Regions from separate parts of the Homo sapiens genome. Here all the other regions are linked to region 3. The links come from fine-mapping of genetic effects on plasma protein levels. Region 3 holds a variant in brackets. A gene starts in each other region. All regions are shown on their reverse strands.

Region 1 (4,349 bases), not on the chromosome of region 3:
TCGGGGGATGGGGTCTCACCTGCCTGCGCTCCGTCCTGTCCAGGTCGTGGATGAACTGTAAAGTACAGGAAAAGGCTGGTGAGACCTGCCCTGACCCTCTGCCACCTGCCCCTCTCCTCCTGGGTATGGCTCACCCATCACCCACCTTCATAATGGGCTGCGATCGCTCTTCGAGCCCGTGTTTTCCGGCCTTTAGGTGCTGAGGATCAAGGAAAGACAGATGAGCAAAGCGGGCCCTAGTGGGGGTCCCAGAGCAACTCTCCCAGCCCCATTCCCCTCTCAGGAACCCTGGCATCCTTATTCTTGTCCAGACTCCTGGCCTTAGAATCTCAGGCCTCATCTTCCTCAGTAAGTAGAGTGACTATAATTTGTCATCCACACTGGGATACTGCTGAGAGCAAAACGGGAAGCTGCTATTAATCACACCGAGATAACAGGTGGGGGCCAGGACAACTGCATGCCGACTTGGACACGTGGTCATCCGGCCACCCCATCATCCCATTCCTAAGTCTCTTTGCCTACCGGGGCCCAGGCCTCTGACTGCCAGGCCTAGTCTCCATCAGGATCCCAGTAGTTCTTCTAACTCATGGCCACCCTGCCTTCCTGTTTGGGGTAGGGTCTGAAGGAGCACATCCATATGACAGAAGGAGCTTCAGAGGAGGGCGAGAATCCCTAGGTTTGAGTCTTGGCTGGTTAGCTGCATGACTCTGAACTCCTTTCACCCTCCGTGCCTCAGTTTCTCCCTGTGGATAATGGTTTTTGCTCTGCCCGCTTCCTGAGGTTGGGATAGAGGGATGCTCACCACTTCTGCGAGGCCGAACTAGTCGGTTCAGGAAAGGCGCAGGATCCTGGCTTTCTTCTGTCTGGGGATTCAGTTCCTAGGGGAATTAGGGCAGGGTTCAACCACAGACTCCCAGAGATATAAAGTGAGACATACGGGGCCTGTCAGGAGAGCCACCAGCCAGCAATAGACACAGAAGTCAGGGACAGATTAAGCCCCTCAGCCAACTACAGCTGGGGCCCCGGGCAAAGGTGAAGCTGGGAGTCAGGCCCCAGTCCTCACCCTTTCCTCTAGACCAGCTACACTTTCCCACCCACACACACAACCAACGCAGACCCTGCATTCAATTGGCACATTGCACACATGCCCGCACCCAGTCACCACGCACAGAGGATACACACCCTGTACACAACCGCACCCCTCTTCCACGCAGACTCACATATCTTATACAACCACGTCACCCCCAGCCAATAAACACCTCAGACTCAGGTGGCACAACCCCAGCACAAACCCCTCACACAGAGTTGTCACCACGCACACACACCCCTGCAGACACGCACCCATGCACGCACTGTGTTCACACACACCCTGCACACACCTCGAGTACGGCTGGCACAGCTGCACACACCTGCAGCCTCGGCTGTGCACACTTCCCATGCCCCAGCAGCCTGCAGACCGCGCCCACGCCCACTCACCGACGGGTCCTGGTCCTCCTCTGCCACCAGCTCCTCCTGGGCAGGCTCCTGCTGGGAAGGAGGGAGCGTCACCCTGTGCCGCTCCACCTGACATCTCACCCTCCACCCATCCTCCCTTCCCCTTGCCTTCAGCCCACGCGGCCCCCAGCGGCCCCTCTGCAGTCTCAGCTCCTGATGTGCCCAAGAAGGGGTGCGCAGCGGGGCCTCACCTGGGCGGACAGCGATGCCCGGCTCCCCAAACTGACCACGGCCAGCAGGAGGCCGAGGCAGGCCAGCGCCAGGCCCAGGCCCAGCGCGAGCGGGACCAGCAGGGCGGTGCCCGGCTCCCCCCGGCGCCCCCTCCGCCTCTGGCTCCGACGGGCGGCCATGGGGGCGGGGGGCTGTGCCTGCCTCACCGCCCCCCCATCCCGGGACCCGAGGGATCGGGGGAGGGGGAGCCGGCGGGCGGATCGGGCCGGGGAGAGGGAGGGGCAAGGGAAACGGGGCGGGAGGGGGCGCTGGGGACAGGAAGCCGGACGCTGTGTGTGATCAAACTCCGAGCCTCTCGCCGGGCGCTGTGCGCGCAGCGAACGGAGTGGGCGCCCACCCGACCTCTGAGCGCCCAGCCCGGGCGTGCACCACCAGGGCGAGGTCCGTTGCGTGCGGCCGCGGGAGCGACGGGGCTATGCGTGTGCGGGCACCTCCTGCGGGGAGGTGGGGAACTCAGGAAGGCCTGTTGGTTCAGATTCTTCTGTGTCCCTGTGTCTTCAGAGATAAGGACCCTCCTTTCCCCCAGGTGCAGGGAGGGCGCCTCTCGCAGGAGGCTGTTATTTGCTTCTTCAGGAAAAGGGCAGGGAGTTCCAGGTTGTATGACCTGGTTCAGGGAAGAAGGGCAGGAGAAGGTAAGAAAGATCCTTCGGCTTCTGCGGTTTTCTCAAATTCCTTCAGCTTAAAACACTCACTGTGCCGGTAGCACGTTCTGAAGCCCATCATTACCAATGATTGCCAAGCATCTGAGGAGGACCAGCAGCATGCAAAAGAAACACCAAAATTGGTCCGGCAGGTGGCTTACGCCTGTAATCCCAGAAGGCCAAGGCTGGGGGCCAGGAGTTCAAGATCAGCCTGGGCAAGAGCAAGACCCCATCTCTACAGAAAAGTTTTAAAAAATTAGCCCACGCCTGTAGTCCCAGCTACTCAGGAGGCCGAGGTAGGAGGATTGTTTGAGCCCAGGAGTTTGAGGCTGCAGTGAGCTGTGATTGCACCACTACACTCCAGCCTGGGCAACAGACCTTGTCTCAAAAAGAAAGAAAGAAAGGAAGAAAGAAAGAAAGGAGGGAGGGAGGGAGGGAGGGAAGGAGGGAAGGAAGGAAGGAAGGAAGGAAGGAAGGAAGGAAGGAAGGAAGGACCAAAATTGGCTGGGCGCGATGGTTCACGCCTGTAATCGCAGCACTTTGGGAGGCTGAGGCGGGTGGATCACGAGGTCAGGAGATCGAGACCTGCCTGGCCAAGATGGTGAAACCCTGTCTCTAATAAAAATACAAAAAAATTAGCCGGACGTGGTGGCAGGCGCCTGTAGTTCCCAGCTACTCGGGAAGCTGAGGCAGAGAATTGCTTGAACCCAGGAGACAGAGGTTGCAGAGAGCTGAGATCACGCCACCACACTCCAGCCTGGGCAACACAGCAAGACCCTATCTCAAAAAAAAAAAAAAAGAAAGAAAGACCAAAATTAACAAACAAAATTTGACATTGGAGGAAACAGAGATAATTCAGGATACAAAGAGTACTACCTAATATACTTAAAGAGAGTCAAGAAAAAGCATCCATAGAGCTGGGCATGGTGGTGCATGCCTGTAGTCCCAGCTACTCAGGAGGTTGAGATGGGAGGATCACCTGAGCCTGGGAGGTTGAGGCTGCAGTGAGCTGTGATCACACCACTGCATTCCAACACGAGCAACAGAGTAAGACCCTGTCAAAAAAAAAAAAAAAAAAAAGAGTATGCAAAGAAAGAAAAGCAGTTAGAATCTCCAGAAAATTTTCAAAACTGAAATCACAATGTAAATAAGAAACAGCTGGGGCCAGTTGTGGTGGCTCACGCCTGTAATCCCAGCACTTTGGGAGGCCAAGGTCGGTGGATCACAAGGTCAGGAGTTCAAGACTAGCCTGGCCAAGATGGTGAAACCCTGTCTCTACTAAAAAAACAAAAATTAGCTGGGCACGGTGGCGGGCACCTGTAATCTCAGCTACTCGGGAGGCTGAGGCAGAGAATTGCTTGAACCCGGGAGGTGGAGGTTGCAATGAGCCGAGATCGCATGACTGCACTCCAGCCTGGGCGACAGAGCAAGACTCCATCTCAAAAAAAAAAAAAAAAAAAAAAAAAAAAGCAACAAAACAGGCTGGGCATCATGGTGTGCACCTGTAGTCCCAGCTACTGGGGAAACTGAGGCAGGAGGATCGCTTGAGCCCAGGAATTCCAGGTTGCCATGAGCTATGATCTGGGCACTGAACTCCAGCTTGGGCTGCAGAGGAAGACCCTGTCTCAAAAAAAAAAAAAGATAATAAATAAATAATAAAATAAAAATAAATAAATACGGGCAGGGCATCATGGCTCACGCCTGTAACCCTAGAGCTTTGAGAGGTTGAGACGAGAGGATCTCTTGAGGCCAGGAGTTCAAGACCAGCCTGGGCAAAATAGTGAGAACCCCTTTCCATCTCTACAAAAAATACAAGAAAAATTATCCAGGTGCGATGGCATGCTCCTGTAGTCCCAGCTACTGTGGAGGCTAAGTCAGGAGGATCACTTGATCCCAGGAGTTTGAGGTTGCAGTGAGCTATGATCACCCCATTGAACCGAAGCCTCGGCAGCAGAGTGAGACCCTGTCTCTATAAAAAATAAA
Region 2 (4,397 bases), not on the chromosome of region 3:
CCCATGTCCTCAGCAAACCCCTCCCTATGCACCTCCCATTTCCCTCAGCTCATTACACACTCAATTATTTTAAGGGCTCTCTCCCTGGCTCAGTTGTGAACTCCATAAGGAAATGGGTCATGTTTATTTTGCTCACTGAAAAATCCCCTATTACTTATTGCTTGTTGATTCTCCCACTCAACAAATATTTATTAAGCAACAGATTTGTCAGGCACTGGGTTTAAGCAGTGAAACAAGACCGAAAAGATTTCCGCCTTCACGGGAAGGGGAGAAGACACAGAAAACGAATAAGAATTTCAAGGCCAATCATGGTGGCGCATGCCTGTAATCCTAGCACCTTGGGAGGCCAAGGCAGGAGGATTGCTTGAGGCCAGGAGTTCAAGGCTGCAGTAAGCTAGGATTGCACCACTGCATTCCTGCCTGGGTGACAGCAAGATTCTGTCAAAAGGAAAAAAAAAGAAAGAAAAGAAAAAAAAAAAACAAACAATTGCAGGTAGTGGGGTAAACATGCTATGAAAATGAGAGAGAAGGGGCCAGGCGCAGTGGCTCAGGCCTGTAATCCCAGCACTTTGGGAGGCCAAGGCCGGTGGATCACCTGAGGTCAGGAGTTTGAGACCGGCCAGGCCAACATGGTGAAATCCTGTCTCTACTAAAAATACAGAAAATTAGCTGGGTGTGCTGGCGCATGCCTGTAATCCAAGTTACTTGGGAGGTTGAGGCAGGAGAATCACTTGAACCCAGGCAGGTGATGTTGCAGTGAACTGAGATCTGGCCATTGCACTCCAGCCTGGGCAACAGAGAAAAACTCCATCTAAAAAAAAAAAAAAAAAAAAAAAAAAAAAAAAAAAAAAAAAAACAGAGAGAGAGAGAGAGAGAAGGAAACGGAACTGGGGGGAGGATTTGCAAAAATATGGTTAGGGATGGCACTTCAGAGATGAAGCCATCCTGGAGTGTTACGGGCAAGGGAAATGCTGGGGCAAAGGCCCAGAGGCAGGAATAGGTTTGGCCTGTTGCATGAACAGTGGGTCCAGCTCCTAGCAAACTGTTTATTGAATGAAAGAAGAATGAATGCCTTGGGTCTAGGGTTGTGCTGGGCGCTTTCTTAAGTTTTCTTTCCCGGGTACCTCCCCAGAACTGGCATGCAGGTATTATTAAACCCATTACACAAGTGAAACTGGCCCAGAGACAGAAAAGTCCCTGGTCCAAGACCACACAGGAGTGAGGGGTGGAGGAACCCTCCTCCCATTGAGTTCTGGCTTTCCTATACTGAAAGCCCCTTCCTCTCCTGCAGTAAGGTAGGTGGAACCGCTGTCCCGCCTTGTTGGTGAATGTCGTTGCTAGACTTCAGACACATACAGGCTGGTCTGCTGAAAATCAGAGATGTCCACCTGCGCCCTATTCGAGGTCTCCGGCGTCTTCTTTGGCGTCGTCTTTGCCCTTTCAGAAGCGTCTGCACATTTTTCCAGGTGTCATTTCTCCAACTTGAACACAGGGAGCGCACTGGGCACGCGGGCACGTGGCTGTCCCCAGGGGCCTGGCTTGGGTCTCGCCCCTGGGCCGGGGCGCACTCGCGGGCGGGACATCTGGGGGCGCCCACGCGCTCTGGGACGAGTGTCGCTGGCCAGGCCCGGACTGAGGAAAGGCGAGTGAGACACTACTCGCCTGGGGTGCAAAATTTAAGGGAGTGAAAAAAAAAAAAAAAGAAAGAAACCAAAACCACCTCGAGTCACCAAAATAAACATTTTAATGCAGTATTTTTTAAAAAATCAACAGGAATCCTCCAAAGCCCACTATGAACAAAATAGCAAAATGGTAGAGAAAGGATCTGTGCCGCTGCGTCGGGCCTGTGGGGCGCCTCCGGGGGTCTGAAACTGGAGGAGACTCGGGGCTGTAGGGCGCGCGGATCTGGGGCGCGCCCTCGGTCCCGGCGCGCCCAGGGCCTCCCGCGCGGGGCCCGGCACAGGGAGGCGGGGAGGCGGGCGGGGCGGGGCGGGGCCGGGCGGCACCTCCCTCCCCTGCAAGCTTTCCCTCCCTCTCCTGGGCCTCTCCCGGGCGCAGAGTCCCTTCCTAGGCCAGATCCGCGCCGCCTTTTCCCGCGGCCCGCACGGGGCCCAGCTGACGGGCCGCGTTGTTTACGGGCCCGAGCAGCCCTCTCTCCCGCCGCCCGCCCGCCACCCGCCAGCCCAGGTGCCCGCCCGCCAGTCAGCTAGTCCGTCGGTCCGCGCGTCCCTCTGTCCCGGAGCCCGCAGATCGCGACCCAGAGCGCGCGGGGCCGAGAGCCGAGAGACAGTCCCGGGCGCAGCGCGGAGCTCCGGGCCCCGAGATCCTGGGACGGGGCCCGGGCCGCAGCGGCCGGGGGGTCGGGGCCACCACCGCAAGGGCCTCCGCTCAGTATTTGTAGCTGGCGAAGCCGCGCGCGCCCTTCCCGGGGCTGCCTCTGGGCCCTCCCCGGCAGGGGGGCTGCGGCCCGCGGGTCGCGGGCGTGGAAGAGAAGGACGCGCGGCCCCCAGCGCCTCTTGGGTGGCCGCCTCGGAGCATGACCCCCGCGGGCCAGCGCCGCGCGCTCTGATCCGAGGAGACCCCGCGCTCCCGCAGCCATGGCCACCGGGGGCCGGCGGGGGGCGGCGGCCGCGCCGCTGCTGGTGGCGGTGGCCGCGCTGCTACTGGGCGCCGCGGGCCACCTGTACCCCGGAGAGGGTGAGTCTGGGGGCGCGGGCGTGGGCGGGGAGCGCCGCGATGGGGAGAGGACCCCACCCAAGCCAAAATCGAGCCCCCGCTTGTGGACTGAGAACCCTCCCCAGGGGCGGGGGGCGGTGGCCAGGACGGTAGCTCCTGCATCGCGTAGGGGGAGCGGGAAGCCTCTGACCTTGGCCTTTGCCCGCCCGGGCTCGCGCCTCCGCGCCCTGCGTGCCCGACCTGAGCCCGAGGAACCTTGCCCCGGTGCCCGCCCCGCCGCGGGCTCCTCTCTGGAGCGCGCCTCCGACCCGTGCCCCGGCCCCTCCGAGCCCAAGTCGCTCCGGAGACACGACACGCGTCATCTTTGGGTCGCGGCCGGGAAGTGGGGTCACTGGGTCTGGACAGCCCCGAACAGCCAAGTCCCCCGAGCGCATATGGTGTAGGTAGAGCCAAGCGCCCTGAGTGCCTCACCGGTGGGTGACGCTGCCTGGGGTCAGGGACTGCAGAGCCCCCCTCTACCCAACTACCTTGGATCTAGGCCCGTGGCCACCCCGGACTCTAGGTCCATGTTTACCCTTTTGGGTTCTGTTTCCAGATGTCCGGAGGCAAATTCTAAAGCCTTAGCAACAGCAGCAATTGTAGCAGAAGTAGTGGCGGTTTTTTACCCTATTTATTGTAATTGGTATCACCGCACGCCACAGCCTAGTCTATCTTATCTCTCTGGACTGTCACAGTGGCCCCCGGAGGCAGATACAGTTATGCACCCATTTCACAGAGGAGTAAACTGAGGCTCATGTAGGACGCATAACTCCCTTGCCCTAAAGTCAGTGCCAGAGCCAGGACTTGAGCCTCTGTGTGTCCCGTTCTGCCCAAGAATCTGGACTACTGTCCCTTGTCTGCTGTCTCCTTGACCCCTCCTCTCCCCTCAGCCCTGCGCTTCATGAAGGAGCCTTTGACCTTGAGTGAGCCTTTCGTTCCCCCTGACCCCATGGGCCCCTCTCCCACGTGTGGGCAGCATCTTCCTTGGGCTTGACAATAGGCACCTTTGGGGTTGTAAGATGAAGATGGCGCAATCATTTAAGGAATATAGCCTGGGTTTCCCACTGTGGGGTCTGAGGCCCTGCTTTAAAAATATCTGTTGGGTTACTGTTTCAGATTTCTCCATAAAAGGAAATCAGTCGTGATGAGGAAGGGGTCAGGGAGGGAAGGAATTGAAGCTCTTAAATGTATTGATGGGGAAACGGGTGCATGTAAAATCAGGTGCTAGAGTGGACCAACCGGGTTTGCTGAGTCGACTCTGTCAATCACATAATGTCTAAAAGCCCCGGGCCCACCCCCCCCCAGCCCCGCCCCCAGGTGCCTGGGAGACAGTAGGTGCTCAATGAAGGGTGGCGGTTAGTTGGAGTTCTTGTTAAGAAAATCTGGCCAGCTGCGGTGGCTCAAGCCTGTAATCTCAGCATTTTGGGAGGCTGAGGCGGGCGGATCACGAGGTCAGGAGATGGAGACCATCCTGGCCAACATGGTGAAACTCCCTTCTCTGCTCAAAATACAAAAATTACCTGGGTTTGGTGGCGTTCGCCTGTAGTCCCAGCTACTTGGGAGGCTGAGGCGGGACAATTGCTTGAACCCGGGAGGAGGAGGTTGCTGTGAGCTCAGATGGCACCACTGCACTCCAGCCTGGCCAAAGAGCGAGACTTTGTCTCAAAAAAATAAAAAAAAAG
Region 3 (4,397 bases):
TAAACTTTTTTTTTCTTTTTTCTTTTTCTTCTTTTTTTTTTTTTGAGATGGAGTCTCGCTCTGTCGCCCGGGCTGGAGTGCAGTGGTGCAATCTCGGCTCACTGCAACCTCCGTCTCCCAGGTTCAGGAGATTCTCCTGCCTCAGCCTCCCAAGTAGCTGGGATTACAGGCATGCGCCACCACACCCAGCTAATTTTTTGTATTTTTAGTAGAGGCAGGATTTCACCGTGTTGGTCAGGCTAGACTCGAATGCCTGACCTCGTGATCCACCCACCTCGGCCTCCCAAAGTGCTGGGGTTACGGGCGTGAGCCACCACGCCTGGCCTTAGTTTTTGTATTTTTAGTAGAGATGAGGTTTCACCATGTTGGCCAGGCTGGTCTTGAACTCCTGATCTCAGGTGATCCACCTGCCTCGGCCTCCCAAAGTGCTGAGATTACAGGCATGAGCCACTGTGCCCGACCTCTCTTTTAGTTATTTTTAAATGTGCAATTAAATTATTATTGACTATAGTCTCCCTGTTATGCTATCAAATACTGGGTCTTATTCATTCTTTCTATTTATTTGTACACATTAACCATCCCTACATACCCTCTCACCCCTGCCACTACCCTTCCAAGTCTCTGCGAACCATCCTTCTATTCTCTATCTCCATGAGTTTAATTGTTTCGATGTTTTGATACTACAGATAAGTGAGAACATGCAGTGTCTGTCTCTCTGTGCCTGGCGAGAAAATATTTGTAATATTTGTATTTGGCAAAGGACTTGTATCCAAAATATAGAAATAAATTCTGCTCAATAATAAAAAGAGAAACAACTTAATGAGACCCAGTGTCTACAAAAAGTAGAATAATTAGCCGGGCATGTTGGTGCATGTCTGTAGTCCCACCTAATCAGGAGGCTGAGGGGGAAAGATCACTTAAGCTCAGGAGTTCGAGGTTGCAGCGAGCTGTGATCGTGCCACTGCACTCCAGCCTGGGTGACAGAGTAAGATCCTGTCTAAAAAAAATAAAAATAGAGGGCCAGGTGAGGTGGCTTATGCCTGTAATCCCAGCACATTGGGAGGCTGAGGCAGGTGGATTGCTTAAGCCCAGGAGTTCAAGACCAGCCTGGGCAACATGGTGAAACCCCATCTCTACCAAAACCACAAAAAATCAGCTAGATGTGGTGCATGCCTATAGTCTCAGCTACTCAAAAGGCTGAGGTGGGAGGATCACCTGAGCCCAGGAAGTCGAGGCTGTAGTGAGCCATGATCATGCCACCACACTCCAGCCTGGGCAACTGGAGTGGGACTGTGCCCCCCAAAAATATATATAAGTAAATAAATAAATAAATAAATAATAAAATGAGCTAAAGATCTGGACAGGCTTCATAAGAAGCAAGCAAATGGCCAATAAATACATGAAAAGATGATTTACCTCCTTAGTCATTGGACACACTTAGATACCACTCCTCATCCACTAGCATGGCTAAAGGATAAAAGAGTGACCATCAAGTGTTGGCAAGGACTGTGGTTCTCGTACATTCCTGGCGGGAATGGAAAATTCAGTCACCACTTTGGAACACAGTTTCTTACAAAGTTAAACATACACTTACCATATGACCCATCTTTTCCATTCCTTGGTATTTACTCAAGGGAAATGAAAACACAGGTCCACAAATACCTGCACATGAGTGTTTACAGAAGCTTTGTTGCTAGTGGCCCCGAACAGTGAAAAAACCACAGTGTCTGTCAATAGGAGACAGAATAAATGAATTGTGGCGGATTAACAATGGCGTGCTTCTCAGAAATGAAAAAGAACGAACGATTGATACACGTGACAATATAGGTGAATCTTCAAAACAGCATGCGGTGTGATGCGGCCAGACATAAAAGAGCATGTATCAGAGGATTCCGTGTATGGGAAACGCCAGGGAATCAGATCCATGGTTGTCAGGGTCAGGAGGGACCTTACTGGGGTGATTACATGTGTACATACATTGTGTGAAACTCATCAAAACCGTATACCTAAAGTGGGCACATTTTATTGGATGTAAGTTATCCCTCAAATTAAATTAATTTTCAAAGTTTTAAAAAATGGAACCATTTTTGCCACATTGAAGGAAAATTATTTCCACCAAGATTTCCCTACAGCCAAACGATCTACCAACTACAAAAATGGAAAAAATAATTTAGGACATGTAAAGTTCAAATGTTTTGCCTCCCACGTTTCTGTTTCAAGAAGCTATTCGAGATAAATCGCTCCGTGGTCACAGGACTTAGAAAGGTGGAGGTAAACACACACAAGCATTATAAGATAAGAAGTAACAGATGAATTAGTTGAAAGGGACTGATTTCGGGGGAAGGAATAGGAACTGGGCCAGGAGATAGACGCCTTTCAGGCTTGCCCTTGTGAAAACGATAGTCCCCTCTTACCTGCGGGGGATAGGTTCCGAGATCCCCAGTGGATGTCTGAAACCACAGATAGTACCAAACCCTACAGAGAGTATGTTTTCTCCTGTACACACATACCTATGATAGGGTTTAATTTATAAATTAGGCACCGGGTGGGATTAACAACCATAATTAATAGTAAAATAGAACAATTATAACAATATACTGTCCGAGGCGGGTGGATCACTTGAAGTCAGGAGATCGAGACCAGCCTGGCCAACATGGTGAAACCTGTCTCTACTAAAAATACAAAAAATTAGCCAGGCG[TAGTGGTGGGCGC/C]CTGTAAACCCAGCTACTCGGGAGGCTGAGGCAGGAGAATTGCTTGAACCCGGGAGGCGGAGGCTGTAGTGAGCCGAAGGTGCCCCTTTGCACTCCAGCCTGGGCAACGAGCAAAACTCCATCTCAAAAACAACAACAAAACAACAACAACAACAAAAACAATATACTGTAATAAAGGTTACGTGAATGTGGTCTCTCTAAAAAAAAATGTGTATATATCTTAGTTTGTGGGTTTTTTGTTGTTGTAGTTTTGTTTATTATTAAGAGACAGGGTCTTGCTCTGTTACCCAGGCTGGAGTGCAGTGGTGTGATCATGGCTTACTGCAGCCTTCACCTCCTAGGCTCAAGTGATCCTTCCACCTCAGCCTCCTGGGACCAGAGGCATGCACCACTATGCCCAGCTAATTGTTTTTTTTTTTTTTTTCTTGATAGAAATGAGTTCTCACTATGTTGCCCAGGCTGGTCTAGAACTCCTGGCTTCCAGCAATTCTGCTGGCTCAGCCTCCCAAAGTCCTGGGATTATAGGCACGAGCCACGATGCCTGTCCTCAAAATATTTTACTGTACTGTACTCACCTATTATTGGCCTTTGGTTGACCATGGGTAACTGAAACTCCAGCAAGCGAAGGTGTGGATAAGGGAACTACTGTACGTGACTTTAATATACATAAAATCACCTTAAAGACAATGATTGTTTCCAGAACATGAGCCTCTGAGACAGCAGGGAGATACTAGGGGAAGTTGGTGGCTCCTCTCCCTGGCAGGAACTGGTCTGGGCTCCTGGCTCAGCCTGGCCATGAGGCTGTCCTGGCCTCCCTCGGTGGGTTCGACAGTGACCTCGACGTGCTCATTTCAGTGTGGTTCATTCCGGTCTCCCAGGGGAAGGGGGTGCTGAGTGGAAGGAGGTCAATGGGAAGCCGGGGTGGCTCTCAGAGTCTGCAGGAGCAGTCGGGCTGATGAGCTGGGAGGAGCAGACCGCCTCCCTCTTCTCTGAGTGGGAGGAGGGCCAGATCTGGACTGGGTTTGGAGATGCTCAGGTGGGGCTCAGAGCATCACCTGTGGGGCAGAGGGACCATCTTGGCAGATGAAGGCCCGTCGCAGGGTGTGATGCCTGAATTACAAGGCGGGACAGGTAAAGTGGGGCAGGTGAGAGAAGGAGGGTGAGTGATGTGATTTTTCTACTCCTGTTTTCCAGGAAAACCAAAATGCCACGCACTTCGACCTATGATCCTTTTCCTAATAATGCTTGTCTTGGTCTTGTTTGGGTAAGACACATTTGACCATCGAGGCTGGCCTGGTTTGGGGAGAAGTGACCACAGCAGCCAATCAGACCCATGGGGCCTCCCTGAGCTCCCCAAGTATCACAGTTATCAGGGTCCTAAGGACAGTTATTGCCTGCGTCCAGCTCTGGCGGAGGGTGTGCTTACTTGCTCCCTTATTTTAGCCTCACCTGGGCAACAGGCTCATCTCACTCCCATTTAAAATTTTCCTAAGTGTGGAGTCTGGGGCTGGGAGAGCAAGCCCCTTGCCCACAATTGCGTGGCTGGGGGTGGGGAAGGCAATTCTGGGTCCCAAGCTGTTAGTCGCTTCCAGACACAGAAGGTCCCAGAACCAAGAGTGAAGTCACCTGTCACCTCTACTGGGGCATCTCTGGACACGGTCTGGAAACACTCCCTGACGTGGCCTC
Region 4 (4,000 bases), not on the chromosome of region 3:
TTTTGAATTGTAAAAGGGCTGCCAGAGTTCCAGTACAGCAAATTTTCCCCTCCTAGACTTACTCTGTTTGAGAAAAAGCACCAGAGGGGGGGATGTGAAAGTGACATTTTTCAGTCAAGCTTCTCTTTTAAGTCAAGTATACAGGGTCTAACAGATGCTGTTGTCAGCTGGCAAACTGGACAGGTAATCACTAAAGAGGTCCTCCCAAGCCAGGTGTCGTGGGGCACACCTGAAGTCCCAGCTACTGGGGAGGATCTCTTGAGCCCAGGAGTTTGAGAGCAGCCTGGGCAACACCGTGAGACCTCATCTCTAAAAAGAAAAGATAAAAGGTCAAGAAATAAAGAGCTCCTCCCAGTTTCAGGGCTGTAGGCCTCCCTGGAAGCCCGGCTATACTGCTCAGGAGTGCTGGGCCTCTCAGTACATCTCTCTGCCAATCCCAAACCTCTGTTTGCATTTAGACATTCAGGTAACACTTTTCAAAATGTCTCTACTGTTTTCACAGTTGCCAAGATTCTTCCCACTCTTACAGAGATGTGTTGGAGTCTCCAGCATGCGGTAGGACTTAGTCCCTTCACTGTAATCCAGGCCTAGGGGGTTAGGAATGGGGAGCTCTATTTGCAGGATTTGGGCTTACTGTCATTTTGGTCTGTTTTAGTTGGATAAGATTGACCACAATGCACACAGACTGGACATTTGGCCAGTCCCCCACTACTACTTTGTTGTTTTGTCTAGGAGTGCTTATTCTTTTCCTTCAAACCTGAAAAATCTTAGGCTCTCATATAAGCAAGTCAGGAAAAATTAGAGAATTTCATAGCCGTTTTCTTTTTCTCCTAGGATAAGTTAGATACCTTTCCCTGGGCTCCAAATCTCAGTTTACTGTCTTTCCTTGCAAAAGACGTGTCCTCCCTACCCATGTCCCTCTCAGTGGAGGCCAGTGCCAGTGACCAAACAGCTGCCGAGCTCTTTAACTCTAATTAGTACTCCACACCCTCACATAGACCTTGCAGGAGGCCTCAACCCACCCACTCCCTCCAACGAGTTGTGACGCAGACCATCTCAAACTTCACATCCACACGTGTCACATCAACGCACGTGACACAAGTGGCCGAAATGGTTTCCTCCTTATAATTTTTGGTGAGTGACTTGGCCGTGGTTCATTCCAAGCGGAAGTGATGGCTGGTGGATATGACTTGAGGGGAATTCCTGAGGGCAAGGAAAAGGAAGAAAGGGGCCCCAGAGAAGACGAGGCACAGCTGGAGAACCCTAGGGCTGTGAACACTGCGACTGCCGCGCGGGGCAGCTGCGCCGTGTTTGCTGGAAGCCTCCGGTAGCTGCTGAAACCTTCGCTCCGGAGGTCGCCTCGGTAAACCTTGCGGATGATTCCACCACGGCGGAAAGACGAAAAGGAGGCTTCTAGGCACCCGGGACCGCCCGTGTCCCGCCCTTTTCCCCGATGAAGTCTGACGCGGCAGGTCCCTCGGCAGGGTTAATGGGACGGCCTGGTGGGGCATTGCCGGTCTTTCCCAGCCACAGACAAGCTTCGCGCCTCGATCCCCCAGCGCCCCCAGACGCTGGATGCCGAGGCCTGGTCCTTTACAGCCGCCGACGCCTCATGAGCGAAGCCAGCCAGATGCCAGCACCGCCTTCGGCCCCGCCCCGAGCCAGCCCCTCCCACATCCCCGCCCGGGGCACGCCCTCGGCCCGCCCCCATCTCCGCCCCGAACACGCCCCTAGATTGGCCCCGCCCCGTCCCCGCCCGCAACTCCGCCCCGACCGGAAGAAGCCGCGGCACCCAGCGCTTATAGGGCCGGGAATGGGGGTGCCGCCGCTGCCTAGTCAGTTCTGCGTCCGCTGAGGCTCGGTCACCGCCTCGCTGTCGTCGCGGCGCCCCCGCCCCGTCCTCTGTCCGTACCGCCCCCGGAGCCAGGGCCGAGTCCTCGCCATGCCGGCCCGGCGGCTGCTGCTGCTGCTGACGCTGCTGCTGCCCGGCCTCGGGGTGAGTGACCGGGGAGCGTGGGGTGGAGGACAGCTCGCGACGGCCGGGTCGGGGCCGGGGCAGCGTCGCGGCGCCGGGGCTGGAGTCCGAGCTGGGAGCGCGACGGCGGCGGCCAGATGCCCCGTGAGCCCAGCCGTGGGAGGCTCGGGCCGGGCGTAGGAGGCGGCACCGGGCCGGGAGAGCTTCCCTGACGGGAGTCGCGGCCCCACCGAGGCGTCGGCCGCCCGAAGAGCCTCCCAAGCCAGCGCGGCTGTCACGGGCAGCGGCTCCCCGGACCCCGCGGGCTCGGGCGCAACTTCGTGGCGTCCTGCACGGCACTTGGGGGTCCCAGAAGGCCCCGGCCTGAGGAGGCCGCCCACCTGCGGGACCCTCCTCCTCGCGGGCGGGCGCCGGCGCTGCCTGGCGGGGGCCGCGGAGGAGCCGAAAGGGCGTTGGGATCCAGGGGAAGGGTCTGTCCTGCGCTTCGAATCCTTGTTTGAACTTTTTAAAAATTCGAAAACTTTGGGGAACGAATGCAACAGGGAGTAAGGACTCTCACCCGAGAGCTGGCTTCTGCCACTTGCCCTGCCGGTTTCTTGGTACTGGGAGGCTGCAGGCTTCCTTCTGTGCACCGAGACTTCCTTGAGCAAGTGGAGCTGTGGGAATTGCACTCTTGGAAGATCCCGCATGGGTTCGAGGTGAGGCCGCTTCAGAACCTCAAATGAAAGACTGTCTCCTCGTGGGAGAGCACCTGGGGCCATCAGAAATGTCTTTTCATCTTTTTCTGGAGGAGACGAATGATAGGGCCTGGTTTACATTCATTTAACTCTTTATGACCTTCACTCAGCTGTGGATTTGGGGGCACTTTGTGGGAGACTTGGCTTTTTTTTTTCTTCTGGTTGGAAGAACCTAAATTAGCGAATGTTTTTCACAAAATGTATTGTTCAGGATGTGAGCGTGGCAAATTTGTCCGTGTTCTGTTTAATGACCTCTTTAAAGGTACTGTGTACTCTTTAATAGGGATATCATGTACCAGGTGTCCCAGTAGAGCACTGACATGTGTGTGCCTGAGTGCCAGCCACCGTGTGAACTCTTTGGAGGTTTTGCATTTTAGGTAAATAACTGTCTGTACTCTTGGAGTAACAAGAATTTGGAAACAGGAGAAGTAAATAAATAAGGTTGCCTTTTTCAAATTCAGGGTTTTTTTTTTTAAATAAAGGAAAATTTGTAGACTCTTTATAATAGAACTTGTGGAAGTTAAGTTTTTCTTTCAAATAAAAACCCCACTTTTACAACTAAGGTCAGGTTTTGAACTTGAGCACCTCACCTTGGATTGGTAACTACTGCCTGGCATCTGTTCACAAACGAAGGTATAAGCAGAATGACCAAATGTTTGACATGAATTCGATCATTTCATAACGTCAAGGGATAGGTGTATAATGGTTTCCTTTGCCACATCTTTCCTTTTGCTACTTTGTCACTGGATTCTAGTGTTTGGTTATTGAATAACTTAGGCTAAAGAGCCAAAAATAACGATTTAGCTGTAGTTGGAACTATAGTTTCAGTTCGTGTAAATATTTCCAATTTGTATTTAGAAATCCAAACTTCTCAGAGTTCATGATAAAATATTCCAGACCCTTATCAAAAGGTTATAGTTTAGCGTAACTATATTTAGGTGAAAGGTCAGGCCGGGCCCGGTGGCTCATGCCTGTAATCCCAGCACTTTGGGAGGCTGAGGTGGGTGGATCACTTGAGGTCAGGAGTTTGAGACCAGCCTGGCCAACATGGTGAAACCTTGTCTCTACTAAACATACAAAAAAAAAAAAAAAAAAAAATTAGCCGGGCGTGGTAGCGCAGGCCTGTAATCCCAGCTACTGGGGAGGCTGAGGCAGGAGAATCACCCGAACCTGGGAGGCAGAGGTTGCAGAGATGGAGTCACTGTGCTCCAGCCTGGGTGACAGAGCAAGACTCTGTCTCAAAAAAAAAAAAGAAAGGTCAGAATTTCACTCCTAGAATTTTCTCCCA
Region 5 (4,322 bases), not on the chromosome of region 3:
TTAGGTTCCTCTTGGCTACGAGTTTCTCAGACTTCCCTTTTTTGTTTGATCACTGACAGTTTTGAGGCATACTGATCAGGAATTTTGTAGAATGTCCTTCAGTTGGGTTTTTCTGATATTTTTCTTGTGACTAGACTGGGGTTATGGGTTTTCAGGAGCAAGATCACATAGGTAAAGTACCATTCTCATCACATCATATCAAGGGCACATACTATCACATGACTCATCACTGTTGATGATCTTGATCACCTAGTTGAAGTAGTGTTTGTCAGGTTTGTTACTTTCCCCACTTTCCACACTGCACGCTATAAAAGGAAGTCACTCTGCACATCCCACACTTCAGGAGTGGGGAGTTACGCCTCGCCTCTTTGAGGACAGCGTCTCTAAACAAATTATTTGGAATTGTTCTCAGCACAATCTTCCATAACCAGGTCCTACCTACATTTTGGGCTTCATCCCCAGCTGCTCCCTCCCTCTCCCATTCCAGGCTCATCATACTACAGGTCAGCACCTGCAGATCCTGCATGGTGCCATTCTTTCTCATGTCTCTTGCTCTCACTATTGCCACTGTCTATGCATGGATGTTCCTTATCTTTCCCCCTTGCATGCTCAATTCCCCTTTGACCTTCAAGACTGCTCAAGTATGCTCTACTCTAGAAAGTCTTCCCAGAACCCAGTCTGCCTCGAAGGATTTTCCTTGAGTCCCAAAATACCCTGTGCATTTTCCCACCATGGCGTTCATTCCTCTCTATTGTTTATTCTCAACACACTCCCTTGTTAGACTGAGAGTTCTTTGACAGCAGGGCTGTCTTTTTACTTACCTTTCTATCCCCTGTGCTTATATACGGCAAACATCAGACACCGGGTAAATATATTTTGAATGAATGAATGAACAAACAAATGTGCAGAATTCTAGATACAAGATTTCTTCTATGAATTTCCAGTCATTCTGCCTTATCAACAATCACCACATTCTGCCTTGTATTATGGTTGTTTAGGTACTTGTCTTACTTATTTTAGTAGCTCTATTGCTCTTTGAAGGCTATGATCATGTTTTATTTGTACTATAATTTCCAGGTCAGTGTCTTACATATAATAGCTGTTTAATAAATCTTTGTTGAATAAGCAAATGAGTTAATGAACAAATAAATGAAGCTGCCTGCACACATAATTGATGAGAGGGAATCGCACAAGGAAAGGAAGCATAATGAACTGGAAAATAAATGGCAGAATTTTCAAACGAAATGAAGTTGACTTGCCTAGCACATTATTTCCAAATTTTTATCATATGCTAGTAAATATTGTCACATGTTTGTTTAAAGAAATTTAAAAACTTAAATCAATTCTTAATGAAATAGCTACATAACTGCTCCTTAACAACAGAAAGGAGAGTCAAGCCTGATTCATCTCTTAGAGATAGACCTCCCTACAAAAAGAACCACGCTGCTACCCTTAAAAATCACTGTTGTATAACAAAACATGTGTTCCTTTGTCCCCTTTAATAACCAAACGAGTTTATATCAAAAATTTTTTAAATAGCATTTCTCTTTATCTATCTCTAATAAAATATAATTTTTCTAAGTGTCCTGTGCTGGAGAGAAGTAAACAGAAAACAACCATTCTGGAAGAAAAAAAACGTCCTTATAGCAAGATAGATTACCATTGTTATCAACACCAAATTCAACTGCTGCAGAAGAACCTCACTCAGAGGAAACCGAGTTAGGAGAGAATTTAGTTCCTCTTTTTCTTGCACCAAAAAATAAATTTTATGAATATTTCTCAATTAGTATTTGATTAGGAAAACCTGTAGAGGGCGTCCTTGCACCAAGAGCCATAGAGGTTTGCGCAGAACTAGAAAAAAATGTTAAAACCACTCGCTCCGAGTTAAAGAAAATGCCTATTGTGCTGTGAAATTATTATCTTTACCTGGGTGACACTGGCATTATAACATTAAAGTGTTTTAAAAGTAGCCTAATGTTCATACATTATATACATGAATATTCATAGAAATAAAAAATAATGCAATGTTGGGAAACAGGTAAATATTTTTATTGTAAAGGAAGAATCACTGTGAAGCTTTGGATGCAAATAGACTTAATTATGATTTATTTATCAGTATGAGGTATAAGTTACTAAGAGAATGGGCTTTGAAATCAGAGTGTCTGGGATTTGAACCCTTACTCTCATTTACCAGCTGGATATCCACAGTCAACTTACTGGACTTTTTGAGCCCTCTTTCCTCGTCAGTAAAATAAGAATAATAGTAGTACCTACTTAAGAGTTGTGAGGATTAAGTAAGCACTTAAAATAAAAGTACTTTAAAAATTAAGACACTGCAAGTTCAAATCAGTCATAGACTTCTTGTCTAATTCCTTTTTTCCTTTTTTTTTTTTCTATTGGTTGGTTGTATAGCTGCAAATATTTCCTCATTGGAAATCTATATTCTCAGAACCTAACACTGATTTAACTTGATGCCTGCACATGTCCACCATCTCTTCTGTTGTTTCTGTTTGTTTTTCCCTCTTGAGGCATCTGCTACTCTATAAAGGACTGATTGAAACACCACGCCCAGCCCCAGACATTTGATCCTTGAGGCATTTGTCACAGCTTCGGGTACTAAAGAACAAACACAAGTAAATGAACCTTTTATGAGTCCGAAGGCTAAGTTTTTTAATTAAAAACAAAACAAAACAAAACCCTTTTGCTTCCGTTTTCTTTGTGCATCCGAGGAATTAGGCAGGAGGCAAAAATCAGTTCTTTCTGCTGGGCCAGGTGGATAGGTTATGCTGCAGCCCACTGCCGGCCAAGCATGCTTCTCACAGACGAGGCCAGAGCCTTGGTTTTGCCCCCACGCACCTGTGAATTCGGCAACTTTTAAAAAATTATTTTATTTATTTATTTATATATTTTTTGAGACGGAGTCTCGCTCTATCGCCCAGGCTGGAGTGCAGTGCCACGATCTTGGCTTAATGCAACCTCCGCCTCCCGGTTCAAGTGATTCTCCTGCCTCAGCCTCCCGGGTAGCTAGGACTACAGGCCCCCGCCACCATGCCCAGCTAATTTTTGCATTTTTAGTAGAGACGGGGTTTCACCACGCTGGCCAAGCTGGTCTCGAACTCCTGACCTCAGGTGATCCGCCCGCCTTGGCCTCCCAAAGTGCAGGGATTACAGGCGTGAGCCATCGCGCCCGGCCGAATTCAGCAACTTTTAAAAAATATCAGCAAACGTGAAGATATCCACGATGTTAGAGGAGCCCTACCCCGGAGGGTCAGGTACAGCTATCGTCCAGGGCCCAGGGCACTCTTCCGGGCACTGCCGGGTTATCAGGGAGACAGACGGGAATCCCCAAATGCTGGGTGTCGGGCAAGTACCAGCTGGACGCCCTGCGCCTCGAGCCAAGGCCAGCGCCTGCCATCGGCACCATCGGACAGTCGAGCCTCGAGTTTTAACTGCTTGGGAGCGCGCAAAGTGCCAGCCTATCGCAGAACGGAGCGCATAGGGTTGGCGGAGAGAGGAATCCTACTGGCTGAAAGGGAGACGAAGGGCAATTTGCGCCTTCAGTGAGCGCCGGAGGAGGAACAGGAGTCATCACCTCATCATCATCATCATCATCATCATCACCATCACCATCACCATCATCAGCACTCAGTCAAGCCCAGCGTTGTCTGCTCTCCCCATTTCCCTCCCCCGAAGCCTCCCTTGGCCCGAGGAGGTGGCGAGTGATGTCCCAGGGGTCTCTGAGTGCCCTTCTCCGGGTCCGCCAGCCCTACACGCCCACTTCGCGGGCGCTCCACTGGGCGCACCGCACTGTGAATGCAGCCTCGGGGGTCCCTCGCGGCCCCGCCCCCGGGGGGGCCCCACAGCGCCCCCAAGTGGCGGCCGCCCAGGCCTCGCGGGCCCCACTCCTCGCTCGCACCTCGCTCGCGCCAGCCCTTCCCGCTCTTCTGTTCTCGCTCTATTTGCCCCGCTGACTGCTGGCCTCGCCAGCTTTGCCAGTCTTACGTCTCTGCCGCCCCCACTCCCGCCCGCGCCCCATCTTCTTGCGCGACTCGCGCCCGCTGGTCCCCCCCTCCTCCTCCCGCGTCCTGCCTGCCCCCTCCTCCTGCTCTCGCAGGCTCCTTGGCACCCAGGCCGGGAGGCGACGCGCCCAGCCGTCTAAACGGGAACAGCCCTGGCTGAGGGAGCTGCAGCGCAGCAGAGTATCTGACGGCGCCAGGTTGCGTAGGTGCGGCACGAGGAGTTTTCCCGGCAGCGAGGAGGTCCTGAGCAGCATGGCCCGGAGGAGCGCCTTCCCTGCCGCCGCGCTCTGGCTCTGGAGCATC
Region 6 (4,339 bases), not on the chromosome of region 3:
TTCGAGGAAAAGGGAATTGGCTAAGGGAGTGGAAATGGCATTCCAGGAGGAGGATAGAGCCCCAACAAAGGCTTGTCTTTAATGCCGATTTGTTATGTTTAGTAACCTTGCTTTCCCTTAATATAAATTAGTGTATTTCCTATATTAACTTTAGGAAATGCAGATAAGCAAAGGGAAGAAAAGAAAAATCACCTACAATTCCACTACCACCCAGAGATAACGCCCCTAGTGTTTTCATCTATATCCATGAAGACACGCAGTTTGCTCTGCGTGTGCAGGTGTGCGTTTTAGCCAGGGTGGTACTGTACATAGGTTATGTTATGCCTCTTTTCACTTGAAAAAATATGATGAGTCTTTACCAGGTCACGAAACATTTTTCTCCAGCATTATTTTGGAAGCTGCATTTGTCTTGCTTTGGGTGGACATACCATTATTCTTTTAACCAAACCTCTATTGTCAGACATGGAGGTTGTTTTCATTTTTTTCTCCTTTTTTTTTTTTTTTTTTTTTTTTTTGAGACGGAGTCTCGCTCTGTCGCCCAGGCAGGAGTGCAATGGTGCGGTCTCGGTTCACTGCAACTTCCACATCCTGGGCTCAAGCAATTCTCCTGCTTCAGCCTCCCGAGCAGCTGGGATTACAGGTGCCCGCCACCATGTCCGGCTAATTTTTGTATTTTTAGTAGAGACAGGGTTTCGCCATGCTGCCCAGGCTGGTCTCGAACTCCTGATCTCAGGTGATCTGCCCACCTTGGCCTCCCAAAGTGCGAGATTACAGGCATGAGCCACCACGCCCCACCTATTTTTTTCTTAAACTGTTAGAAATGAAGTCTGGGTGTTCCCACATTCCTTAGCAATCCAGGTGTCTTCCTTCCCGTTAATTCCTACATAACCACAGGCCCTCGAAACTACAGGATGCCCTTTTCCTCCATCAAGTTCCTTCTTCCAGTGCTTCTGAGAGGCCCCAAGGAACACTTTCGTGTTCCACAGACCTGTTGGGGCTGCGTCTTGTCCTCTCGGCCAGCCACTTGGGACCAAAGCCTGCTCTTCTCCCTAAGCGTCCCTTGTAACCTGTTTTTCTCGCTGTAGCTTCCCCACACTGCCTTGTCATCAAAGTCATCAAAAACCCTCTATCCATCATGGTTCATTCAGTAGCACAGAAACCTCTCCAGTCTTTCAGACCAAGGGACTTTAATGTAAAGGAGCTCGTCACCCAGAGGATGAAGGAGCTGGGACACTAATCAGGACAGACAGTTCAGAGATTTCCCCAAAGCAGGAAGCTGTGCCATCCCACCAACTGAAAGGAAAGATGAGGGGAGAAGGTGTTGCCAGAGCCAGGAGCTGGCCTCCAAACAGGAACAAGAAAGACATAAGGGGTTGCCTGGCTGATGGACTGTCCAGAGGGAGCCAGAACTGCAGAGGGATATGGCCATTGCTGGGGAAGCCACTCAAACAGAAAACGAGGGGAGAAATGCTCTGATCTCTGCCTCCCCAGTCTTCCCCCAGGGGCTAAACCTATCAGAAAGCAGTTGATAAAGGAGTCTAGAAAATGTAGTTTCCTGCAGTTTCAGGAAATGACTGGCATGGGCCCTACCTTAATTCCTCCAAAGCACAGCTTAGATTTGGCTGTTTTGTCAAACAAACTTTAGCAATCAGGGCTGATAACAATTACAATTCAGGAAAGAAAAACTTAAACACCGATCTCAGCATATCACAGCCCATTACACCCAACCCGTTGGCAGGATCCCTGCTAAAATTTCGCTTGCCTTTGTGTGCTTGGGGCCAGGCAAACTCTCCCCAGGGGCAGGACCCTCCAATCGTGTCCACCCTGACCAGAGTCCAGGCCCCAGGGCCCTTCTACCTTCTCCAGGCCCTGCAGGAAGGAGAAAACCATTTCCTAAACACCTGTCCCTTCATTCACACGAAGCTCATGTGCAGATCCTGCCCTACGTGGCAAAATGATGGGAGAGCAGCCTGAATCTTCATCGTCCCGAACCAAAGCCCCATTCATGAAGTTCAGCCCCATCTCTAGCACAGCAGAAAGAATCACTGAAGTTTGAGTTCCATTTTTTTTCTAAACTTTTGCAGATCCTAGACCCAAAGGCTCAAGGTAAGAGCGGCTGGGCTTCCTCACCCCCAACGGCCTCTCTAGGGGAGAGCTGTTCCCAAGCCCACCCCAAGCGTGGGGACCTGCCTTGATATGGAGGATCAAGGAGGAGCATCGGGTGCCCTCAATCTCCTCCTGCCAGAAAAGCAAAGGAGTCACAGCTTTTCCTTTGCTGCAAGAAACATTCTGGGACCTTTTTTTTCCCCCTCTGTTGTCCAGTTATTTTCATCAGGGTAAATCCCCTAGGAATAGAATTATTAAAGCAAAAGATATGTATGTGGTGTAGGCTTTTGATCCACAGTGCCAAATTGCTTTTTGATAAGGCTGCATATCGTGGATTATTCTTGCCTTTTCTGCCCCTCAGCTCCTTGATAAACCACTTGGGATGAATCAGCCACCGGACCAGATAAACAAGCCAGCCTGTTACTATTGCTGTTTTCTGCAAGTCGGAAGGGAACTCCCTTAGATCCCGCCCAGAACCTGGAATTCCAGAGCACACAGGGCCAGGACACCTTTGTACCCCTGCTCCCCACCGGCACAGGTCCCACCCACCCCCTTCTCCCCGCCCCATGCCCGGGTGGAGCCAGCTGCCAGGGCGCCAAGACTCCCAGCCCTCTCTCTGTGCACGGCAGAGTAGAGGCCAAGGGAGGGCTCTGTGCCAGCCCCGATGAGGACGCTGCTGACCATCTTGACTGTGGGATCCCTGGCTGGTGAGTGCCCATCTACCCTGTGGTCAGACCTCCCTTATCCCAGGGGCCAACGATCAGGGTCATCTCCCCAGCACCCTCCCCAGCCCGAGCATAGCCAGTTTCAGTTTCTCCCCTGCTAGGGCTGAGCAGGGTGCCGGGTGTTCACGGAGAAGCAAATGCCCAGCTTAGTTTGCTGGGGGCATGAGAGGGTGCCTCAGACCCTGGGTTCTTCCAGGGACCCAAAGGACCCTCGGGTCTTGAGGGATATAGCCAGCTGTCTGAACTGGGGGTGCTGGATCGCTGCACCTCAGTGAATGGAGAATTGGCCTGGAGGAGGCAGACATCCTTCGGTCCCTCAAACGGTGTCGGCACAGTTTGTACCATCCTTCCTCTGCCTCTCACTTGGCACTGGCCTGACAGGGGAGGAGGAGGAAGGACCGGGGGAAACGAAGCTTGAGTTCACTATTGCCTCCCTCCATGCCCCTGCAGGGCCTCTTTGGCCCCTTTTGTTATCATAGATCTGAAAGAGCATTTTCTCCTAGAGTGGCCAGGTCTGCTACATTAATAGGTCTTAAGACACAGGACTCATTTGGAAACAGGTCTTAAGGGCATAGTGTTCAAAGCCAATAAAGTGAGCGGAGTGGGGGGCTCATCATTATGGAGAACGTTACATGAGACCCTAGACTCTCTCTCTGCTCTCCTGGTGCATTGCATGAAATTCAGGGAACTTCCTTAGGAAGTCAAAGCATAGTCCTGATTGAGGATGGCGAGCAGGTATGGCCTCGGCCAGGCCCTCCTTGCTCAAGTGCAGGACGAGGCCCACGAAAAGGCAGAGCTTCCCACCTTCTCTGCCACTGTCCCGCCAGGGCTGCCTGCGTCTCCAGGGCTTCCAGCTCTGTGGGACCCCCTCCAGTCTGCTTCCCAGCATCAAGCTGGGCGTTCCAGGAAGATGTGAGGCACCCCCTTGAGGCACCAAGACACGTCCCTTTAGACCCTCAGCCATACTGGTTAGAAATCCTAGAGGCTCCCAGCCCTTTGAGATGGGGGACCCCAAGAAATAGCCCTTAGGAGATTGTCAAGGGTCAGCTGCCTCGCGCTGCACACACCGGGCCCTCACCCCCCCAATCTTAGGCTGACTCCAGAGCATGTGGAATTGTTTCTTGTTTGTGTATTTTTCCTTAGCTTCCCAGCTGGTTGACAGAACATTGTTTTTCCACATGAATGTGAAAAAACAAGTTGCCTTTTATAAATCCGCCAGGCTGCCAGGCTCCACACAACACATGTCTCCCCAGATTTCACAATATAGACTTTCACCCGGGAAGTGCCGAAGCAACACAGGCTGAGGAATGGATGATAGATTTGAGGAGGAAAAGGAGCGAGGAGGGTGGGAGAAGAGGGGGAGATCTTGTTAGACCCTGACATCCCTAAAAGACAGGAGTGGGCCTAGGTTCACTTACCCCACTTCAGGAAGCTAACTGCAGTTCCCTCCTGAAAAGTGGTGCCAACCTCCACGTAGCCCAGGGTCCTTTGCCTTGGCAACATGCCCC
Region 7 (4,360 bases), not on the chromosome of region 3:
CTTTCCACAGAATCTACTAGGATATAGTAGCATAGTCTTATATGAGTATAGCATTTTCTATTTTTCGAATATGTTCCCATACATTATTTGATCCATACAATAAACAACACTTTTGTTATTTCATCCAAAAACTCTTTATTGGCCCAGACGATATTCCCAGCCAAAGCTAAAAGTCTGGTGCATGTTAGAAGCTCTTCTTTGCTGGAAGACGCTGCTGGTGGAGGGGACAGTAGCCGATGTAAGCAGAACTCTCTGCCCCCCTCCTCCCATGCACACAAGCAATCTGGAGATGCAGTGAACACCTTGACCTGAGTTTCAGAAAGAGGAAAGCCCACAGGATGTGTCCAGGCAGACAAAAGGGCTCACCCCTTCTCTAGAATTCTATCAAAAACCAAGGGCGTCAGGCAAGAGGTCTCAGAGCAGGTCCCGAAGTACCTAAAAGGCTATTCATCTTTTCCTTCCCTTTCTAGTAGTTATTTTTCTCATTCTCTCTCCTCCCCCTTTTAAAAGCTGGTTTTTCTTCTACTTTTCTCATCTCTGAATATTTCTCCTTTTCTCTCCCAAGTCCCTGAAGTCTTCCCCAACACCCTAGCCCCCATCTTCTAGCACAGGTCATCTTCCTGCTGTGGGCAGGGACCTGACACTGGAGAAACCCACCATCTACACAGCTGACTTACTACATGTCAAAGACAGTTCTAAAGGTTCTATGTGTACGAATTCACTAACTCATCACAACAGCTTTATCAGACAGACACTTCTTAGGTCGGTTCTCACAGATGAGGACACCGAGGCACAGAGTCACCTAGGCTGGGAGGTTCAGTCACTAGCCCAAGCTCACACATCCGTTGAGTGGCAGTGCAGGATTTGAACCAAGAAGTCCGGCCATGCGGGCCCTGGCCTGAATCCCTGTACTACAGCAGCCGTCTGATGAAACAAAGGCTGGGGGACTCTCCCCTTCCACTGCAAAAGGTTGATCTCTCTCCAGCTGGAGCAAGGGGCGCTGGAAGGATGCAATGACCCCAAAGGCAAACTGTGCCTCTTTCCTCTAACATTCCTCCGAAAAGTTGCGAAAGAGGTAGTCTCAGTAAGGGGTTAAGAACCGTAAAACCAGATTTACATGACTTGTGTACTGCATTTAGCATCAAAGCGCTGCACTCTGCCTTTCAGCAAAAGAAGTCTCCACCGCCCCCGCTTCCCTGTAAAAGAGGGAGGGCTGAATAACTGCAAGCCTAATCCGCAAACCCCAAGCTCCAGCCGCAGCCTCCGCATCTGGAAGGAAAAAGCGGCGGCAGGCGAGCCAGGGCAAGGGCTGGGCCAGGGCCGGGGCCGGGACCAGGGCCGGCCGCAGTGCCCGGCTCTGTGGCTCTGAACGCGGTTCTGGCCGCAAGAGTCGTCCAGCCCACGCTCCTCCCTTCCCCCTCCCTAAATCCCACCTCGAGTCCCGCGCCCTTAGAGGAAGTGGGTGGCTCTGCCCGGTCGCCAGCAGGGGATCGGCCCCTTCTCCCCACCGTGCCCCCGACTCGAGTTCTTCTGGGCACTGCCATCCTCTCGGTGCGTGCCCGTCTTCCTGCTGAAACGGACCCCAGTGGCTCCCGGGCCTCCCGGGCGCTCTTCCTTAGCCCCGCCAGCTTGAGGGCCGCGTCCAGAGAGCGGGGAGCTCCTCTCGGGGCGCCGATCAGGTCCCCGCGCCGCAGCCGCCGCCTCCGGCGTCTCCCAGGCTCGGCCTCTGCCGAGCCCGCTGCGGTCCACGTGGCTTGGCAGAGCTAAATTCGGCTTGCAGGAAGCCCGGAGCCAAGGGAAAGCCGAGCCAAGTTGGGGTGGGCGGGGCCGAACGGAGGCGCAGAGTCGGGAGGGGCGGGCACTGGGCGGAGGAAGGGGAGGGCCGCGCGCAGGGGAGGCGGTGGCTGGGCTCTGGCGCGCCCTGGCACCCGGCCCCGGCCGGCCAGGGAAGGCGGCCCCTCCTCGGTCGCCCCGCCTTTCACTCCCGTTACACCCGGGGGAAGGTGTTCCCGAGCCCTCTCCCACCCTCATCCCGCCTCCTCGCTTCCTCGGCTCCAGCCTCCGCCGGCGGAGCCCACTATGCCAGACAGTTTCGACACTTTGCAAAGACAAAGAGCCCTAGACCGGAGGGAGGAGGAGGAGGAAGAAGAGCGGAGAGAGAAGGAAGAGGCGATGTGAGCTGGGAAGGGGGCAAGTGTCCGGGACACCCACACCCCTGTATTCTCCTCCGAACCCCTTCATGCCCAAATCCCGGAAACTCCAGCGTGTCTCCAGCCGTGGTGAGTGCGCGCGCGGAGGCGAACCCTGCTCGGGGTGCGCGGGGGCTGCGTCCGCCTGAGTTGGGGCTCGGGCAGTTTCCTGTGGATTCTCGGAGTGGAAGGTTGATTGTCTGGACCCGGGAACTGAAGGGGTGGGGAGGGGACTAGGAGGGTGTGACAGTGGAGCTGGGACTGAAGACCCCGGGATTCTAGTGGAAGACATTCGAAGGGAGACCCCTTCCTTGGCAGCGGCGACCACCCAGGGCTTTGGGAGAGGAAGAAGGTCGGGGTGGAGGTTCGGGCTTAGGGGTCTTCGGCCGACACTGGAGGAGCTGCCTGGAGCTCTGTGGGGAACCTACGCCAAGTCCCGGGCAGCGGTTCCCGAAAGCAGCCCCAGTGACATTGCACCCGGCGCCGGGCTGGGATCTCCTCCGCTGGGGCCGCCCGTGGGAGGAGACCTCGCTGGGTGGCCGGGCTCAGGCGCTCTCGAGCGGATTTGGGGTCACAGGCTGGGACACCGCGGAGGCCGCCAGTGTTCTGGACGAGCGGCCGTGGGACAGTATCCGGATCGAGTCCCCCAATCCGCTGCAAGCAGGCGCAGATCCGGGAGGTGGCTATCGGCCCCGGGGACGCCGTCAGAGCGCGCTGCTCCGGATCTGGGGGTGAAGTTGACACCCGGGACAAGAGAGCTGAACGCGGCGTGGCGGACAGTGGGGGACGCGGGTGGGCCAAGGAGAGCACGGCCGGAGTCGTGTTAGTGGCAACTCGAAACTCTGAATCCGCCCCAACCCCGTGAGGCGTCGCAGCTCCCAAGAAATAATCTGACAAAAGTTAGCAACTTGCCTGTGTCTCTCGTGTGTGTGACCTGCGTGGGGGCAGGGCCACCCCTTCTGGGAGCGCACGGGGACGGACAGCGGTGACCCTGGGGCGAGGCGCTCTGGTGAGGGTACAGTTAGTTTGGAATCGGGACGGTGGCGCAACTTTCCGCTCCTCCTTTCTCTGCGCGAGTGTTTAAGCGTGACCTTGCGGGAGGAAGCGCGGCTGAACTTGAGATGGGGGTTGAGCTTGCGCCCCGGCTTGGCACAGAGACGTCGGAGCGCGCATTAGCCTGGCCTTGCAGCCGGGTCTCCCAGGAAGCGTGTGGGGATCGTCTGGCTCTGCTCGTCAGCTGGAGCCCTGACTCGCTCCTCCCTCCTACGCTAGGGTCCTCGGCGGCCGTACCATGCGCGGGGCTCGGTGGTGTGTTGGGCGAGGGGACACGTGCGCACCCAGAAGCGCGCAAGGGGGTGGGGGTTGGGCAGGTCACTGCGTCTCGCGGGCTGGGCGAGTCCCGCAGAGGGAGTCAGCCGTGACCCTGAGGGCAGTGACTGGCTCGCCGCGTCCCTGCATCAGGCATTCGCCCGGCTTTCTCGTGATTGTTTCCGGGCACCCCTGGCCTCTCCCGACTTCTCCCCCTCGCGGGTCCCCAAGCCCCGCAAGTTTGCGACGAGCTGGTTCTCCAGGGAGACAGCGAGCGCCCACCCCCGCTCTGCGGCTGGGTGTGTGTGGTGAGAGGAAGAGACGGGAGGAGGAGGCGAGGCCGACTCGCCAACGAGGAAAACGGGGTGAGAGGGGAGCCGGGTTTTCCAATAGTCGCCAGGGCGCCTGGCACGTCGTAGGTGCTAACGCAGTGTTCATTGACAAGGCCCCAAGGTGGAAGGTGCTGGCAGGGGCCCGGACGCCCCCTTCTTCCCTTCCAGTCTCTAAAATGGAGTTCAAATGTATCGACCAAGCCCTTTAGGCTTCTAGACGTGCCTGGAGCACCTACTACGTGCGGGGGCTCTACTCCTGGCCTGTTCGTAGAAGCTGCGGGCGGAGCCTCCTGATTTTCTTTACCCCGCGCTGCCCAAGCGCCCAGAGGCTTCGAAAAGGCAAGGTGCACTGCCCCCTGCCGGCTGCTGTGGAAACTGCCGCTTGTCTCTGCGGTGGGGAAGGGGCGCCCAGTGCGGGGGTCCCTCAGTGCCTTCCCGCACCTCCCCTTCCTGCCCCAAACATTAGGACCCCTGCCGGCTGTTTTCTGAAATCCCATGGTTGGCTGAAATGACTGACTAGAGTTCACCACT

Which allele goes with the higher level. Alleles are on the strand shown, and positions count from the first base shown. The strength of an association depends on the size of the effect and on how common the allele is.
For the plasma level of the protein whose gene starts at base 1,940 in region 1, C is the low allele of the variant in region 3 and TAGTGGTGGGCGC is the other (strong association).
For the plasma level of the protein whose gene starts at base 2,075 in region 2, allele TAGTGGTGGGCGC in region 3 goes with a higher level than allele C (strong association).
For the plasma level of the protein whose gene starts at base 1,828 in region 4, allele TAGTGGTGGGCGC in region 3 goes with a higher level than allele C (strong association).
For the plasma level of the protein whose gene starts at base 4,158 in region 5, C is the low allele of the variant in region 3 and TAGTGGTGGGCGC is the other (strong association).
In carriers of allele TAGTGGTGGGCGC in region 3, the plasma level of the protein whose gene starts at base 2,713 in region 6 tends to be higher than with C alone (strong association).
With allele TAGTGGTGGGCGC in place of C in region 3, the plasma level of the protein whose gene starts at base 2,085 in region 7 is lower (strong association).

What was found. PIP is the posterior inclusion probability: the model's chance that the variant is causal. Protein levels are from antibody-based Olink assays in UK Biobank. Linkage for the fine-mapping came from a reference panel and not from the study's own genotypes, which makes the PIPs less certain.
Region 1: TNFSF12 starts here. The variant in region 3 is fine-mapped to the plasma level of the TNFSF12 protein (UK Biobank, PIP above 0.99).
Region 2: it holds the start of INSR, and the variant in region 3 is fine-mapped to the plasma level of the INSR protein (UK Biobank, PIP above 0.99).
Region 4: it holds the start of ERN1, and the variant in region 3 is fine-mapped to the plasma level of the ERN1 protein (UK Biobank, PIP above 0.99).
Region 5: it holds the start of WIF1, and the variant in region 3 is fine-mapped to the plasma level of the WIF1 protein (UK Biobank, PIP above 0.99).
Region 6: it holds the start of IL22RA1, and the variant in region 3 is fine-mapped to the plasma level of the IL22RA1 protein (UK Biobank, PIP above 0.99).
Region 7: it holds the start of ST3GAL1, and the variant in region 3 is fine-mapped to the plasma level of the ST3GAL1 protein (UK Biobank, PIP above 0.99).

The regions. Positions count from the first base shown.
Region 1 is chr17:7,546,649-7,550,997 of GRCh38, reverse strand. TNFSF12 (TNF superfamily member 12) reads right to left here and starts at 1,940. Exons shown (of 7, transcript NM_003809.3): 1 at 1,686-1,940; 2 at 1,477-1,524; 3 at 803-878; 4 at 146-199; 5 at 20-55. The coding sequence starts at 1,844. It overlaps TNFSF12-TNFSF13 (TNFSF12-TNFSF13 readthrough), which reads right to left and starts at 1,940. Exons shown (of 11, transcript NM_172089.4): 1 at 1,686-1,940; 2 at 1,477-1,524; 3 at 803-878; 4 at 146-199; 5 at 20-55. The coding sequence starts at 1,844. RefSeq lists silencers at 1,746-1,825, 1,856-2,045.
Region 2 is chr19:7,292,092-7,296,488 of GRCh38, reverse strand. It overlaps INSR (insulin receptor), which reads left to right and starts at 2,075. Exons shown (of 22, transcript NM_000208.4): 1 at 2,075-2,697. The coding sequence starts at 2,598. RefSeq lists silencers at 1,494-1,673, 1,814-2,203, 2,224-2,503, 2,644-2,783, 2,834-2,893 and an enhancer at 2,875-3,633.
Region 3 is chr9:133,261,677-133,266,073 of GRCh38, reverse strand. It overlaps the pseudogene ABO. Among named protein-coding and RNA genes, the nearest start is that of OBP2B, 55 kb to the right of the region's middle. The variant TAGTGGTGGGCGC/C (reference allele first, on the strand shown) is at 2,700.
Region 4 is chr17:64,127,972-64,131,971 of GRCh38, reverse strand. ERN1 (endoplasmic reticulum to nucleus signaling 1) reads left to right here and starts at 1,828. Exons shown (of 22, transcript NM_001433.5): 1 at 1,828-1,996. The coding sequence starts at 1,943. RefSeq lists enhancers at 1-23, 928-977, 1,028-1,227 and silencers at 1,648-1,777, 1,868-2,317.
Region 5 is chr12:65,121,141-65,125,462 of GRCh38, reverse strand. WIF1 (Wnt inhibitory factor 1) reads left to right here and starts at 4,158. Exons shown (of 10, transcript NM_007191.5): 1 at 4,158-4,322. The coding sequence starts at 4,272. RefSeq lists a silencer at 3,838-3,997.
Region 6 is chr1:24,141,514-24,145,852 of GRCh38, reverse strand. IL22RA1 (interleukin 22 receptor subunit alpha 1) reads left to right here and starts at 2,713. Exons shown (of 7, transcript NM_021258.4): 1 at 2,713-2,813. The coding sequence starts at 2,771.
Region 7 is chr8:133,569,612-133,573,971 of GRCh38, reverse strand. ST3GAL1 (ST3 beta-galactoside alpha-2,3-sialyltransferase 1) reads left to right here and starts at 2,085. Exons shown (of 10, transcript NM_173344.3): 1 at 2,085-2,279. It overlaps ST3GAL1-DT (ST3GAL1 divergent transcript), which reads right to left and starts at 3,400. Exons shown (of 2, transcript NR_186509.1): 1 at 3,102-3,400; 2 at 116-2,914. RefSeq lists silencers at 1,336-1,395, 1,586-2,075 and enhancers at 3,866-4,085, 3,445-4,298, 4,256-4,325.